4 linked regions of the Homo sapiens genome follow. The protein of the gene in region 1 purifies or fractionates together with the protein of each later gene. This does not show direct contact. Each region holds a gene or a part of one and is shown on either strand. Other genes may lie near its edges.

What was found. The genes of interacting proteins can lie anywhere in the genome.
Region 2: the proteins of DGAT1 (region 1) and P2RY8 purify together in Homo sapiens (co-immunoprecipitation; one large-scale study listed by IntAct). This does not show direct contact.
Region 3: the proteins of DGAT1 (region 1) and TRDN purify together in Homo sapiens (co-immunoprecipitation; one large-scale study listed by IntAct). This does not show direct contact.
Region 4: the proteins of DGAT1 (region 1) and TMED5 purify together in Homo sapiens (co-immunoprecipitation; one large-scale study listed by IntAct). This does not show direct contact.

Annotation. Positions count from the first base shown.
Region 1 is NC_000008.11:144,320,353-144,323,852, reverse strand, and holds part of DGAT1 (diacylglycerol O-acyltransferase 1), read left to right. Parts: intron 1-2,444; coding exon 2,445-2,532; intron 2,533-3,500. UniProt on the Homo sapiens protein: Catalyzes the terminal and only committed step in triacylglycerol synthesis by using diacylglycerol and fatty acyl CoA as substrates. Highly expressed in epithelial cells of the small intestine and its activity is essential for the absorption of dietary fats.
Region 2 is NC_000023.11:1,464,186-1,467,685, forward strand, and holds part of P2RY8 (S-geranylgeranyl-glutathione receptor P2RY8), read right to left. Parts: intron 3,034-3,500; exon of another isoform or gene 2,846-3,033; intron 2,398-2,845; 5' UTR 2,374-2,397; coding exon 1,294-2,373; 3' UTR 1-1,293. UniProt on the Homo sapiens protein: G protein-coupled receptor for S-geranylgeranyl-glutathione (GGG), an endogenous metabolite present in lymphoid tissues.
Region 3 is NC_000006.12:123,626,951-123,630,450, forward strand, and holds part of TRDN (triadin), read right to left. Parts: intron 1-3,500. UniProt on the Homo sapiens protein: Contributes to the regulation of lumenal Ca2+ release via the sarcoplasmic reticulum calcium release channels RYR1 and RYR2, a key step in triggering skeletal and heart muscle contraction.
Region 4 is NC_000001.11:93,149,414-93,152,913, forward strand, and holds the end of TMED5 (transmembrane emp24 domain-containing protein 5 isoform 1 precursor), read right to left. Parts: 3' UTR 329-3,500; downstream 1-328. UniProt on the Homo sapiens protein: Potential role in vesicular protein trafficking, mainly in the early secretory pathway. Required for the maintenance of the Golgi apparatus; involved in protein exchange between Golgi stacks during assembly.

The sequences.
Region 1 (3,500 bases):
GGCCCTGGAGCTGCACTGTGTGGGCCCCAAGTGTGGGACTCACTGGGACCTGTGCCTTTGGGCACACTTTGAACCTGGAGACAGGGTGGCGGGTGGGCATGTGCCAAGGTCTCAGTGTTGCCGTGAGACTGAGAGGATCCTGCTGGCTGGGTGGGCCTGGGGGCTGCAGGAGGGAGGGCAGGCTGCTCCGAGTCTTCTTGGACTAGGGAGTGGGTGTAGGGACAGCTGGAAGGTGCAGAGGCTTGGGCAGATCCTCCAGTCAGTGAGAGGGTGATAAAGGTGCTCTAGGCACAGGGGCAGATCCCACCTCCCCATGCCGTTCCATGCAGCCTGCCCTGTAGCCCACATGCTGCTGGCCGCACTGACTGCTTGGAGCTCTGTGGGCACTGGTGGACTGGGGCTTCCTCCTCATGGGGGCCTGTGAGGGGTAGGGGTAGCGCAGTGGGGGTGCTGCCTCTGGGTGGGGCTGGTCAGGCCTGTGAAGGGCCTGAGGTGAGGCTGTGGCTGGGTTGAGGAAGGCCTTGGAAGCCTGTCAAGGGGCCCCTGAGAAAGCTTGTGTAGGATTGTCTGCAGTGAGCTTTGGGAAGCACCACCCTTTCCCGACTCCTGTTTTCATCTTGGAGATGGGCATGGATAAAGCCAGCATGGTGTCCTTGGTGGCTCAAAGGGGGCAGGGGTCATACTGCTGTGAAACAGCTGTGGTTGGTAGGTCGTGGTACAAGAAGGCCAACCCTGAGGCTTGGGATTGTTCTGCTGAAAACAAATGGGCTCGAACTTGGGGAAGAGGGGGCAGTGGAGAGGCCCCCAGACAGACAGCCCAGAGAGGCTGCTGGGCAGTTGGGCCTCGTGCCCCTGCTCCCGTCACGGTGCTGGGGCTCTGGCGGTGTCTACACCCAGCCTCCTGGTTGTGGGCAGGCAGTGAGTGGAGTAGGCTGGGGAGATGAGCCAAGGGCGGTGGTCAGTTGGGAAGACAGCTGCCAACTTGGGGAGGAGGGAGGCTCTGGTGGAGACCACAGCCTCACTGCATGGCCCAGGATGGACCTGGTGGGTGGATGCAGGGCGCTCAGGCTGGAGCTGGGAGAGGCAGGGGCTGGGTGGAGCTGCCTGCCCCTGTGTTCCAGTCTAGATGGGCAGAGGGAAAGGTGTGAGCATCCTCCCTGCCTGGGGGTCTTGGGGACTAGTGTAGACTTGTCCAGGAACTGTGTAGGTGTAGATGGGGCATGTGTTGCACCAACCTTGGTCTTGGGGAGCAAAGGTTGGGCTTGTTGGCATTGCCTCTCGGCCTCCCTGGCCCTTTGCCTCCTGGGCAGGGCCGTCTGACTGCCGACCCCAATCCTAGCCAGCTTGCCTTGGGTGCCCTGAGGGCGTCTGCCTCATGGGGCTCCTGCCATGGCTCTCAGGCCCACTCTCCCTGCCTAGGGGCTCTGAGGGGCAGATGTGCGTGTGCGGGAGGGAAAGGGAGGCTCTGGCCTCTCCTCTTACAAAGTTGAGGACTTGCTCAATGCTGTGTGTGGTGTCCCAGTGGCACGGCAGATGGGGGGTGAGGCGGGCCTGCAGCTAGTGTATATGAGCCAGCACTGCTTCCTAGGACGTGTGGGGGCCTGGCCAAGCTCTTGCTGTCCTTGTCCTAGCTATATGGCAGTCCCTCTATTGGGCTGGGTGCCCTCTTCCACCTGTGCAGTATGCTGAGGACCAGGCAGGGTCTGCCTGTGCCCCTCCAGCGCTGGTTGGGAGATCATGGGTGGGTGCCTGCCTCTGTTGGAAGCCTCTCAGCCAGCAGGCACCTAGCCCCGGGTGGGTTCCTTTCAGCCCCCTCAGCCTGGGCACACATCACAAACAAGTGGAGGCTACACCGGCACACGAGGGCTGGATCCCTGCCTCTGGGAAAGTGCATGTCAGGCTGGTGTGTGGCTGGCGCCTGGCCTGCCTTTGCCAGTTTGAGCCTGCACGTCCAAGTGTGGGGACCCCTTAGCTCCCGGGTGCTGGGATGGGCCAACTGAATAGGGTGGACTCAACCCTCACCACTTGGTCCCCACAGTGCTGGGCAGTGCCCCCTGGTCCATCCCCAGGTTGGACCCTGCTTGTGGCCCCAGTGCTAGTCCACAGCCAGAGTACATGGCAGTGGCCAGAGGCCTCTGGAGAGTGAGGCCTGGAGTGTCCAAGCTCCATGTAGGTCCAGTCCGGGCAGGGCCAGCTGGGCTTGCTTCTGACCCTGACATGCTCGTCCCGCTGCCTGGAGGTGCAGGCTCTGGGGGTCCGGAGAGCTTTGCCCACTGTAGGTCTTGAGGCCACAGTGTGGCTCTGCCTGGCTTCTCCTCCTGGTTGTAAATAAGGAGTGGGGCCTGAGGGCAGACGAGGACACTGGGGTGGGGGCCTGGATCCTGCGGGGGTGGCGCTGCCCTGCTGGTGCCCACTCAGGGGGTGCTTGTGTTGTGCTCTGTCAGGTGCCATCGCCTGCAGGATTCTTTATTCAGCTCTGACAGTGGCTTCAGCAACTACCGTGGCATCCTGAACTGGTGTGTGGTGATGCTGGTGAGTGGGACATGGTGTCGGGAGCGGGTCTAGGTCCAGGTGGGGCTCTGTCCCAGGCTGGCCTTTGCCTGAGAACAGGCTCTGTCACCCAGGGTGTCCAGGCTGGAGCCCCTGTGGGCTGGGGTGTGTGGAGCAGGCTGCACCTCCATGTGGCTGCCAGCACTGGACTGTTGGGGAGGGGAGTGGCAGTGGCTGCCCCTGCTGTGGTCACTTGGGTGCCCATGCACCACATACTTGCTGCTTCCCATTGGATCCCAGGAGAGCCCTGCAGATGTGGTGTGGGCGTGGGGAGGCCGAACAGTGCCTGGCTGGAGCCTGTGTGTTGTGAGCTGGGCCTGAGGGGTGCAGGGCCTCCAGGGAGGGCAGGGTGGAGGGGGTCTTGCCCTGGGCTGGTGGGAGAGTGGACTGCATGCTCTGTGGACACAAGGCCTCTCTGGCAGGGGATGTGAGAAGAGCTTCCTGTGCTACGCCACATGGCCTCTGTGGGTATGGAGCCCTGCAGGCCTGGCCACCACTCTGCAGTCCTCCTGGCCCCTTCCCTCAGCTGTGGGTCCTAGGAGCCCCCCAGGAAGGTGATTAGATGGAGCCCTGTGCCACGTCCAAGGCCTGCTACCTCTGGGCCTGGTTCCCACTGGCACTTCGTGGGGTGGGGCTGCCAGCCCCACCCCAGAAGTAGTTGGAGTCTAGGGCTCAAAGGGGCACCTGCAGGGCAGGTCGGGGACAAGGGCTATCTGGGCCCAGCCTCCCCAACTCAGGGCTGATGTGGCTCGAGGCCTTTGACCTTCACCCAGGCGTGTCTATCTCTGGCCTTGGGTGCTGCTCCTGTGGCTACCCACGTGGAAGGGGCTCCACGCACATCCACATCCCCCACCGCCCATGGTCCTAGAAGGTTCCCTGGGGGTGGCCAGCTGTGGAGGCCCACGAGTCCTGGTGGCTGAGAAGCTGGCCAGGCAGGAGGACAGTGGGCC
Region 2 (3,500 bases), on another chromosome or scaffold:
ATGGTCTTTCTCGCCCAAGAGAGCCTGGGATCCAATTCCACGTGATGTCCCAGCACCCCTGGAGAGTCAGAGCTCTTCTTTGCGCTAAACCAGCTCAGGTGTTGGGGCTGGTGCAGGCACATGCCGTGTAGAAGAAGACAGACAAAGACCCAGCCTGCTCACCACCCACACAGCAGGGAGGGGGCTCAGCGGCTGACACCCCTGTAGGTTCCTGGGGTCCACACCTGCATCTGCTGCTTGGTCTCCAAACGGTCTCATGGGTCAGGCCAGTTGCCTGCTTCCTGGACTCCAGATGGACTTGCCATGGCTGAGGCTCTCCATGGGGTAAAAGGACGCGGAGAATGGGCAGGAGGTGGGGAACTCCCGAATCAAGCTGCACCCTTGTGTTGGGATGGGCTGGACCCCATCTCACGGAGCCTCCTTTCCGCACCTGGGCCTCCCGTGGTCCTTGTCCTGAGTCAGGGAAGCCTGAGTGTGTTCCAGGGGCCTGATGGGACCTCCTTCTCTATCAGGGACTCACAGAAGCAGAATAGGGGTGGGGTCCCACCAAGCCAGGCCAGAACAAATGTGCCAAAAATCACCTTGGTCAGCAACAGGGTGGGGTGTGTGTGTGGGGGGAAGTGGGCACGGAGAGTAGCTGACTTGCAGGAGCCCCAGGCGCTCCTCTGAAAGAAGAATTCCAACCACAGCAACCACAGTGCCCCTGAGTGAAATAAACAGAAATTTCGGCGTGCACCGGGCTACGGAGACCAGAACCCCTGGAGGAGAATGGAGAAGGCCAGAACCACAACTAAGGGACGATGTCAGCAGGGAGAAGAGCTGGGAATGGGGCTCGCAGTTCGCCCACGGAGGATATCCAGAAACCGAGTCGGGTAGGCGGTGGGGCTGGTTGAATATCCACCCTCGGGTATGGACAGGTGTGAGGAGTGTCTAAGGAGCTCGGGGGTGACAGCCCAGCTCTACTAAAAAAAATACAAAAATTAGCCGGGCGTGGTGACACAAGCTGTCCCCTGACACAGAGAGGCAGAGGCACCCTCTGCAGGATAACAAGCACCCTGTGCGCTGCTGGGCTTTGCTTGTTTCTCTACCCTGAGTGAAGCCTGGAGACCCTTCCTCACCGGTGCCTCTGCAGTGCCTGGGAGGAATAAAGCCTGGAGACCCTTCCCCACCGGGCCTCTGCAGTGCCTGGGAGCAACGCAGCTGTTCTCCCTGAACCTCTGGCACCGTGGCCTCTCCATGCGCCCCTGGATCTCCAAGCTGCGCCCCCGGCTCTCCAAGCTGCGCCCCCGGGACTCAGAACACACTCTCCTGCCTCTGGAGGCCGGGCCTGGTGGCTCCCTCCATCCCTTCAGGGTGCGCACCGGCCTCGGAGCGCACGGACGTGGTCCTGGCGGAGAAGAGGCTCTCGCGGCGCGTGTCCAGGGTGTCTCTGGGCACCCGGCGGCAGCCCAAATATTCCCGCAGGCGCAGCTGGAATTCCCGGGACGCAAAGTAATAAACAAACGGGTCCAGACAGTTGTTGAGGCAGCTGAGACACAGCGTGAGCTTGTACACGTGGTAGTAGCTCTTGCCGTAGAACAGGCGGCTCACGATGTGCGCCAGGAGCACGAAGTTGTTGGGGGCGAAGCAGGTGACAAAGGCCAGCAAGACCACCGCGGCCAGGCCCACCGCGCGCCTCCGCTGCTCCCGGCCGTGCGCCTCCTCCGTGCGCAACAGCTTGAGGATGGTGGCCGTGTAACAAGCCACGGTGATCACGAACGGGATGAGGAACAGCAGGATGAAGATGGTGAAGAGGAACACGGCCCACATGGCCACGCTGGGGAGCATCGTCCACTTGAGGACGTCGAAGCAGGTGATGATGCCCAGGGCGTGCACCGGGTAGGTGAGATCGGTGCGCGCCAGCGGGGACAGGGCGGTCAGGAGCAGCAGCCAGGTCCCTGCACACGCGGCCACCGCGTAACGACGGCGGCGCCAGCGCTTGGAGCTGAGCGGGTACAGGACCCCCAGGAAGCGCTCCACGCTGATACAGGTCATGGTGAGGATGCTGGAATACATGTTTGCGTAAAAGGCCACGGTCACCACGTTGCAAAGCAGCACCCCGAATACCCAGTGGTGGCGGTTGCAATGGTAGTAGATTTGGAAAGGCAACACGCTGGCCAGCATCAGGTCCGTGACGCTCAGGTTGATCATGAAGATGACCGACGGGGATCTGGGCCCCATGCGCCGGCACAGCACCCACAGAGAGAAGAGGTTGCCCGGGATGCTGACCGCCGCCACCAGCGAGTACACCACGGGCAGGGCCACCGCGATCGCCGGGTTCCGCAGCATCTGCAGCGTCGCGTTGTCCGGGCCGGTGCTGTTCGGGACCTGCATCCTGGAGGGGTCCTCGCCCGGGCTCTGCAAGGGAAGGAGGGAAGGGTGTACGGGTCAGGGGCGCAGGTAAAGAGGCGGCTGCCGGGAGGGCTCCTGAGCGCCGCTCCCCGGGGACCAAGGCGGGGGAGATGCTTTAGCAGGGCCTGCTGTCTCCTCCCTCCCTCCCTCCCTTAGTTCCTCCTTCCCTCTCCTCCTTCCTTCCCTCCCTCTCTGCCTCCTTTCTTCACCCTGTGTCATTCTTTTCTTCTTTCCTGTCTTCTCCCCTTTCTTCTTCCTTCCTCCTCTCTCCTTCCTTCTCTTCTTCCCTCCTTCCTTCCTTCCTTCCTTCCTTCCCGCCCTCCCTCCCTCCCGTCCTTCCTTGGATCAGGGAGGTCATTGGAGACCTCGGCCCACGTCAGAGGCTGAGACTCTTAGATGATCCACAGTGGGGCTGTGGCTCCCCTGGGCAGGTTGAATGCATTGTCATACAAACCTCAAGACTCAGTGTCCCCCGTGGACGGAAACCACAAAGCCACCGTCAGCCCCCAGGGTGGTCTTAATGGGAATTCTTGACACCCTGGCAGTATTAGTCTGGGTATGAGTCCTCTCATCTCAGGGGCATCCACCCACAAAGTGTCTATCAGCAGAAAACACACACTCCGAGTGCCAGGAGACCAACCCGCAGCCTCCAAAGTCTTTCCAGCTTTTAACACCCGCGTCAACCCACGGCTCCTCCCTGCTCTTTCTTCCTCCAGAGGAGACCTGCGACTTCTTACCAACTGCTCTACAAACAGCTTCCTCAAGCTGGCTTTAAAATGGCCCGGAGTTTTCGTTTCAGTTTCAGGGAGAAGTTTTCTGACCCGCCGGTCCGTGCCCAGGTGTGAAACCTACAGTTATGCACGAGTCAGCACCGCTCCCCACGGCCAGCTGGGCACCTCCAGCCACCTATGGCTTCAGGAGGAAAAGCAGACCCTTCCTTCTTTGGGTTCCGCTTGGTGTGGCCGTGGGGGACGTCTGGAAGGAGAGACGCTTTATCCATGAGCTGGTGATGAAAAAGTGTCTGTCAAAGGGACACTACTTTTATTTTGAGAATGTAAAGTGGACAGAGCTGGAAACAGGGGTGCCCTGGAATTGTTCTTTTGTTTGTT
Region 3 (3,500 bases), on another chromosome or scaffold:
AGAGTTTTGCTCTTGTTCCCCAGGCTGGAGTGCAGTGGCACGATCTCGGCTCACTGCAGCCTCCACCACCCGGGTTCAAGTAATTCTCCTGCCTCAGCCTCCCAAGTAACTGGGATTACAGGTGCCTGCCACCACGCCCAGCTGATTTTTTGTATTTTTAGTACAGGCAGGGTTTCACCACATTGGCCAGGCTGGTCTTGAACTCCTGACCTCAGGTGATCCACCCACCTTGGCCTCCAAATTGCTGGGATTATAGGCATGAGCCACCGAGCCTGGCCCACAAAATGTATTTCTTAAAAAATGTCTTGAAAATCAAAATTACTTCTTGAGCCATGAGCTGCAAAAATGATCTTCTGTTAGGCACGAAAACAACATTAATCTTTTTGTATATCACCATCAGAGCTCTTGGGTGACCAGGTGCATTGTCAATAAGCAGAAATACTTTGGAAGAATTTTTTTTTTGAGTAGTAAATCTCAACAGTGGGCTTAAAATATTCAGTAAACTATGTTGTAAACAGATGTGCTGTCATGCAGGCTTTATTATCTCATTGATAGAGCACAGGCAAAGTAAATTTATTGTAATTCTTTAGAGCCCTGGAATTGTCATAATGGTAAACCAGCATTGGCTTCAACTTGAAGTCACCAGCTGCATTATTCCCTAACAAGAGTCAGCCTAAACTTTGAAGCTTTGGAGCCAGGCATTGACTTCTCCTATCTAGCTCTGAAAGTCCTGGATGGCATCTTCTTCTAATAGAGGACTGTTTAGTCTACATTGAAAATGTGTTGTTTAGCGTAGCCACCTTCATCAATGATCTTAGCTAGATCTTCTGGATAACTTGCTGCAGCTTCTACATCAATCCTTGCTGCTTCCACCTTGCACTTTTATGTTGTGGAGATGGCTTCTTTTCTTAAACCTCATGAACCAACCTCTGCTAGCTTCCAACTTTTCTTCTGCAGCTTCCTTACCTCTCCACATCTTCACAGAATTGAAGAGATTTAGGGCCTTGGTCTGGATTAGGCTTTGGCTGAAAGAGAATTCTGGCTGGTTGGATCTTCTATCCAGACCACTAAAACTTTCTCCACATCAGCAATAAGTTTGTTTCACTTTCTTATCATTCATGTGTTCAGTAGCACTTTTAATTTCCTTCAAGAACTTTTCCTTTGCATTCACAACTTGGCTGTTTGGTGCAAGAGGCCTAGCTTTCAGCCTATCTTGGCTTTTGGCATGCCTTCCTCAGTAAGCTTAATTATTTTCAGCTTTTGATTGAAAGTAAAGATATGCAACTCTTCCTTTCACTTGAATTCTTAGAGGCTGTTGTAGGTTATTAATTTTCCTAATCTCAATATTGTTGTGTCTCGGGGAACAGAAAAGCCTGAGGAGAAGGAGAGATAGTGGGAATGTCTAGTTGTTGGAGCAGTCAGAACACACATATTTATTGATGAAATTCACCATCTTATATAGGGGCAGCTTGTGGTGACCTAAAACAATTACAATATTGATATCAAAGAACAATGGTCACAGATCACCGAAACAGACATACCAATAACGAAAACATTTGAAATACTGTGAGAATTACCAAAATGTGACACAGAGACAGGAAATGAACGCATGCTGTTGGAAAAATGGTGGTGATAGCTTTATTCATTTTCTTTGAAAAATGCAATATCTGTGGCATGCAATAAAGCAAAGTGCAATAAAAAGAGACATGGCTGCAATTCAAATTGGAATCAAATGTTTTATAATCTGTCCAGTCTTTATTCTCACTGTTATTTTTTGCTCTTTTCTTTTTGTTTTGCAATGTAGCAGGGACCTTTTATCATTCATTTTTGTGTCCACATTGTCAGGCATTCAATTTGGTACGTAATAGGTATTAAAATATTGAATAAAACCAAACCTCTGGCATGACATACTGCTTCATAAATCTACATCTAGGATGATAATTAATACCATAGAATCTAAAATTTTGTTATATTTCAGATGGAGGTAACTTGCCTTTTTCTAAATGCAATGCCTAATATTTCTGCAGATTTAAATTCACAAACTTGGCATTTTACTATACTGTAGTAACTTTCAGATTTTACAGTACGCTTTTTCCCCTAGTCAATAATATATAGGTTAAATCAGAATAACCATGGGCAAAAATAATAGCTCCAGCAGTGAATGTCAGAGAAGTGCCACTTCATATCTCTTATTTTTGTCTTGACATTATATTAAATGTCTTCCTCAAACAGAAAATTCCCCTAATCACATGATAATTTTATTTTCAAAGGCAACAGACAATTTTCCAAGGAAAGTTTGCTAAATATGTATTTTGAACGTCTGTATAAATGGAAACTGAATCTCTCACATCCACGAGCTCACTAATGCCCTAGACCATATTAAAACTAAGTTTGAAATACTAAGAGTTTTTCCTTCTTTTGTTTTTCTCAACACTTCAGTAACCTGTGTCAGGGAGGGGAGAATGATGCAGCAAATGCGTAGCAAAGATAAAACTGGTTTGTCACAATGAGTTCCAGCTTCATGCTGTCTAAATGAAACCAAGTTTCCCCTATAAAGAACAGGTTGCTCCATTTAAATTATCTTTGTTCTTATAGGTCAAAATATCATGTCTTTAACTTGTTTGGGTGAAAACCACATGCCCTAGCTTCTGGCACAGATAACAAATTAGAAAATATCTAAACCACATATATTTAAATGTAATATTTAAAGTACATTGTAAGTGAGATAGAGTCTGCAGTTTATGAGGAAACAGCTCATTTACATACCAAAGAATCTCTCACAATTGTAAATTCTGTGTGTCTTTGACAGCTTCACTTCAGGCATGGAGATGTGGAGATGTTTGATGTTTAGAGAGCATTAACTTGTATAGAGCAGAGCAAGACTTTATTCATTGCACATTTGCCAAGGATACTCTTTTTGGTTTCCTTTGAAGATAAAAATTACTATCTGTTTGGACCAGGAAGTTCATCTGTCTCTGCATAACCCTCACTAGGGGTAATATATATTTACATGACAATCAAATAAGTATTCTCTGTAAAAAACCAAGCCTGTCATTCGTATTATCCAGGGCAGGTGGGAACTGGAGACAGCAAAAACTTAACCTTGACAAATCTTCCTAGAACTTTAAGTAAAATGGAGCCTGAACTCCGTAAAGTCGACATTATTGTATGATGTTAATGCATAGTTGCCAGATGAAGATTTTTCCCCTGCTTTGTTCTTTTTAAATATGTTACATTAGATAATATGTATTTTTTAAAAATACATTAAACATGTCCCCAACGGGTTTCTTTTTGTTTGAAAGAAGAAAAGAATAATGTTTTAATACTATCTTTAAGCTCCAACTAAGCATAACTATAAAACCAAAAGCTTTACTGGAAAATCTTAACCATTTTCTTTTCAAATTGATATATTCAACACAAAGGTCAATGTAGATGATTTTAAAATTGCTTAGTTGCACTGTTTTATGTTTCTCTCATATTAAATATTGTTAACTGATTAA
Region 4 (3,500 bases), on another chromosome or scaffold:
ACAGTCTCTGCAGCAACACTTCGATGAGCTGAAGAGTCAACAACTTCTGGTTACAGTGTTCTTCCAAAATTTTTCAGCAAAAAGACCCCAAAATAGAAATCCTTCACCTATTGAGGATCCCCAACCATCAACATTGTCTGCTCCTTAACCATCAACATTACCTTGGCTCAGTGATCCAGGATTACCCGAAGTTATTTTGATGATAATGTAGCCTAACTACATCACTTATACCTACATCAGTCACCTCATTTCATCTCTTCATGTAGGCATTGTATGACATCTCACAGCCTCACAAGGGTGAGTACAAGATATTTTGAGAGAGAGAAACCACATTTGCATAACTTTTATTACAATATATTGTTGTAATTGTTCCATTTTGTTAGCTATTGTTAATCTCTTAATGTGCCTAATTACAAATTAAACTTGATCGTAATTATGCATGCATAGGAAAAAACAGGCCGGACATGGTGGCTCACGCCTGTAATCTCAGCACTTGGGAAGTTGAGGCGGGCACATCACTTGAGCTTAGGAGTTCGAGACCAGCCTGGGCAACATGGCGAAATTAATTAGTCAGAAATATGTATATACCAACATACTAATATGTTTCAGCTATAAATACTTCTAACATTTCACATGTATATTTATGTAATCACCACAATCAAACTACAGAACTTTTCCACCACAAGGCTCCCTTTATAGCCACATTCTCCTTCCCTTCAGTCCCAAGACCTGGCAACCACGAATCTTGTTTCCCATCTCTATAGCTTTATTATTTAAGAATGTTACAAAAACAGAATCATACAGTGTGTAAAACTTTAGGATTGTCCCCCCAAACCACCCAAGCATAATTCCCTTGAGGTCCATGCAATTTGTTACATGTATCAGTAGTTTGTTCCTTCATATTACTATTTAGTATTCCATGGTGTGGACATACTAAACCATTCACTCTTTTTGAAGGACATCCAGGTTGTTTCCGGGTTTTGGCTATTATAAATGAAGGTGCTATGTAACATTTGTGAATGTTAAGTTTTAACTTCTCAGGGATAACTGTCAAGTAGTACAAATGCCAGTTATATGTTAAATGTATGTTTAGTTTTATAAGAAACTGCCAAGAATATTTTCCACAGTGGCTCTACTATTTCATATCTCACCAGCAACGTATGAGTGGTCCACTTATCCAATTTCTCTTGCATCCTAGCAAAACAACTCTAAAATTTATCATTTGGAACTGTCTTTTCTTTCTGCAATGGTATTACGTGTCCTTTTAGAATTGAAATCAAGGGTAGAAAGGTTAGATTTAGTCCAGCCTCCCATTTCATATTAGCTGTAGTAACAATCCCCTTTACAACATTTGATCATTATTGCCACTTAACACTTCCAGGATTAGGGAGTAGTATCTTTCTTTCTGAGGGAGTTTATATCAGTTTGGGTAACAGATTCTCATTGTTCATTTTACTGCTTTCCTATTTCTTCCTCATCTTCCATAAAAGGCACAATAATAAATCTAAGCTTGTTAAAACAGAAACAAAAACAACACAAGTACTAAAACGAGGGTTTTTGTTTGTAAAACTGTCAATTAGGATTTTAATTCATGGTCAGTGAAGACCTTCAGGATTTTCCCTGCCCTGCATTTTCTTGCCTTTTTCTTTCAGATGCAGGGATCCAGAGTCCATCTCCATTGTGCCCTGTCTTATGTAACATCATCCTAGCTCTAGATTCTTTAATTGGTGTCCTTTCCCCAGACGTACATTAGGTGTATGGCTCCAGGTTATGACAACAGCCTTCCAGAAGCCTTAGACACCTGAAAGTGATAGCAGTGCAGAAGCAGAAAGGTGCCTAAGGATTTCTACCAGCTTGTGGTAGAAGAGTGGCTTGTCTGGATGGTTTGAGGGAAATGACCAAATAATAACCTACCTACACCAAGCATTGTACTTTTCCTATATGCTAACAAGTTTTAAGATGTTTCTGAACAAGTTTTAAAATATTTCTGAAAATGAAATAGTCTCAAAGGAGTTTTGATTTTGCAAGATCACTTAGCAAATGATCCAAGGATAACTGACAGGATTCTATATTGTGTTGGTTGAAAATTAAGAATCCTGAGCCATATTCCAGACCTGAATAATCAATTTCTGGGGTGAGGTGGAGCAGGTAAGTTCCCTGGGTGCTTATTTAGCATACCAAACTTTAAGAACTGATTATCTTTCCTTTCATATATTTTGAGCAAAAACTGTACCTTTTAGGAACAGTGCATGTTTAGGCAACAGGTGAATAAGTACATATAGAAACAGAACTCCAATGCAAAGTAGAGTGATGTACAATAAGAGGTGTAGAGAGCTATGGGGTTTCAAAACAGGAGGAGAGAGCACATTATTAACTAAATAGAGATGAAGGAAGGCTTTCAGGAGTAGACAGCATTTACAAATGACTGGCAGTTAATTTTCTTTGATAATTTTTATTATATACATATCAGTACTCACAATACGTTGCTTATTTAAGATGGCTGTTTATAAGTATAAAGCAGTTTGAGCAACACTGATTGTGCATTATTGTACTTCAGATGAAAAATCCTTACATGTGGAATCAATGTCTTTTAAAATTTCAGATAAAGAATTTTCATTTGAGGAGACATACAATTGTAAGTGCTCATTTTTTGTCAATTTTAAGACACCATTATGTGTAAGAAGGATTAATTTTACCATAAAATTACAAACACCCTCCATGTCTTGACATTCACATGAAAGAACAGCATAACATTAATCATCCAAATGCATATCAGAGCAAACTCTAGGCCTTAGTGTGAGGTGAACACGGTAACTGCTACATTATGGAAATCGGTTGGGCCTTAGTTAAATATTGTAGTATTTTTAAAATTTGTATATTGAAAAAGACAAAATGAGCTGTTAAGTGATAAACAGCTTACTCAATTTAGCATAACTTTAATTTAGAAATGGAATAGTGAAATTAAAAAAAGCATATGAAGCAGATAAACAGTATGTCTTTAGAAATATTAAAGATTTTTACTCTGTTTACAAGTTTTGCTTTTTTGGTTATGCCTCTTAAATATCTGTCTTTTTACTTTGTCTATAAAAATAATTGTCCTTAGTATTCCTAAATTCTTTTCCAAATAAAGCAATTATCGTTTTTATATGGTAAGAAGTTACTGAATCATAGGTTTAAGATCAGTGGCACAAATCATACATGTAGAAGATTATGTAACAAATTCATTGTTAGGTAAGGAGTCAGAGAGTACAGTACAGTAACAGCCATACAGGAGAGGTAGAATTCTTAATCACAGTTTTATAGAAAAGATGCAGTAGTTTATATCTGTACCCTGCTTTATTAGTTATGGTACTGTAAATTTGCTTCTCATTGCAAATTTAACAGCGCAAAAGGGAGGGGTATTCATAGGCAAGGATCTTATTGACCTTTGTTCTGCAAGTGTTGCAGAGGATACCCCTAGACACCTGAAGCATTTTCTTGGCCAATTAAGGTAATTGATC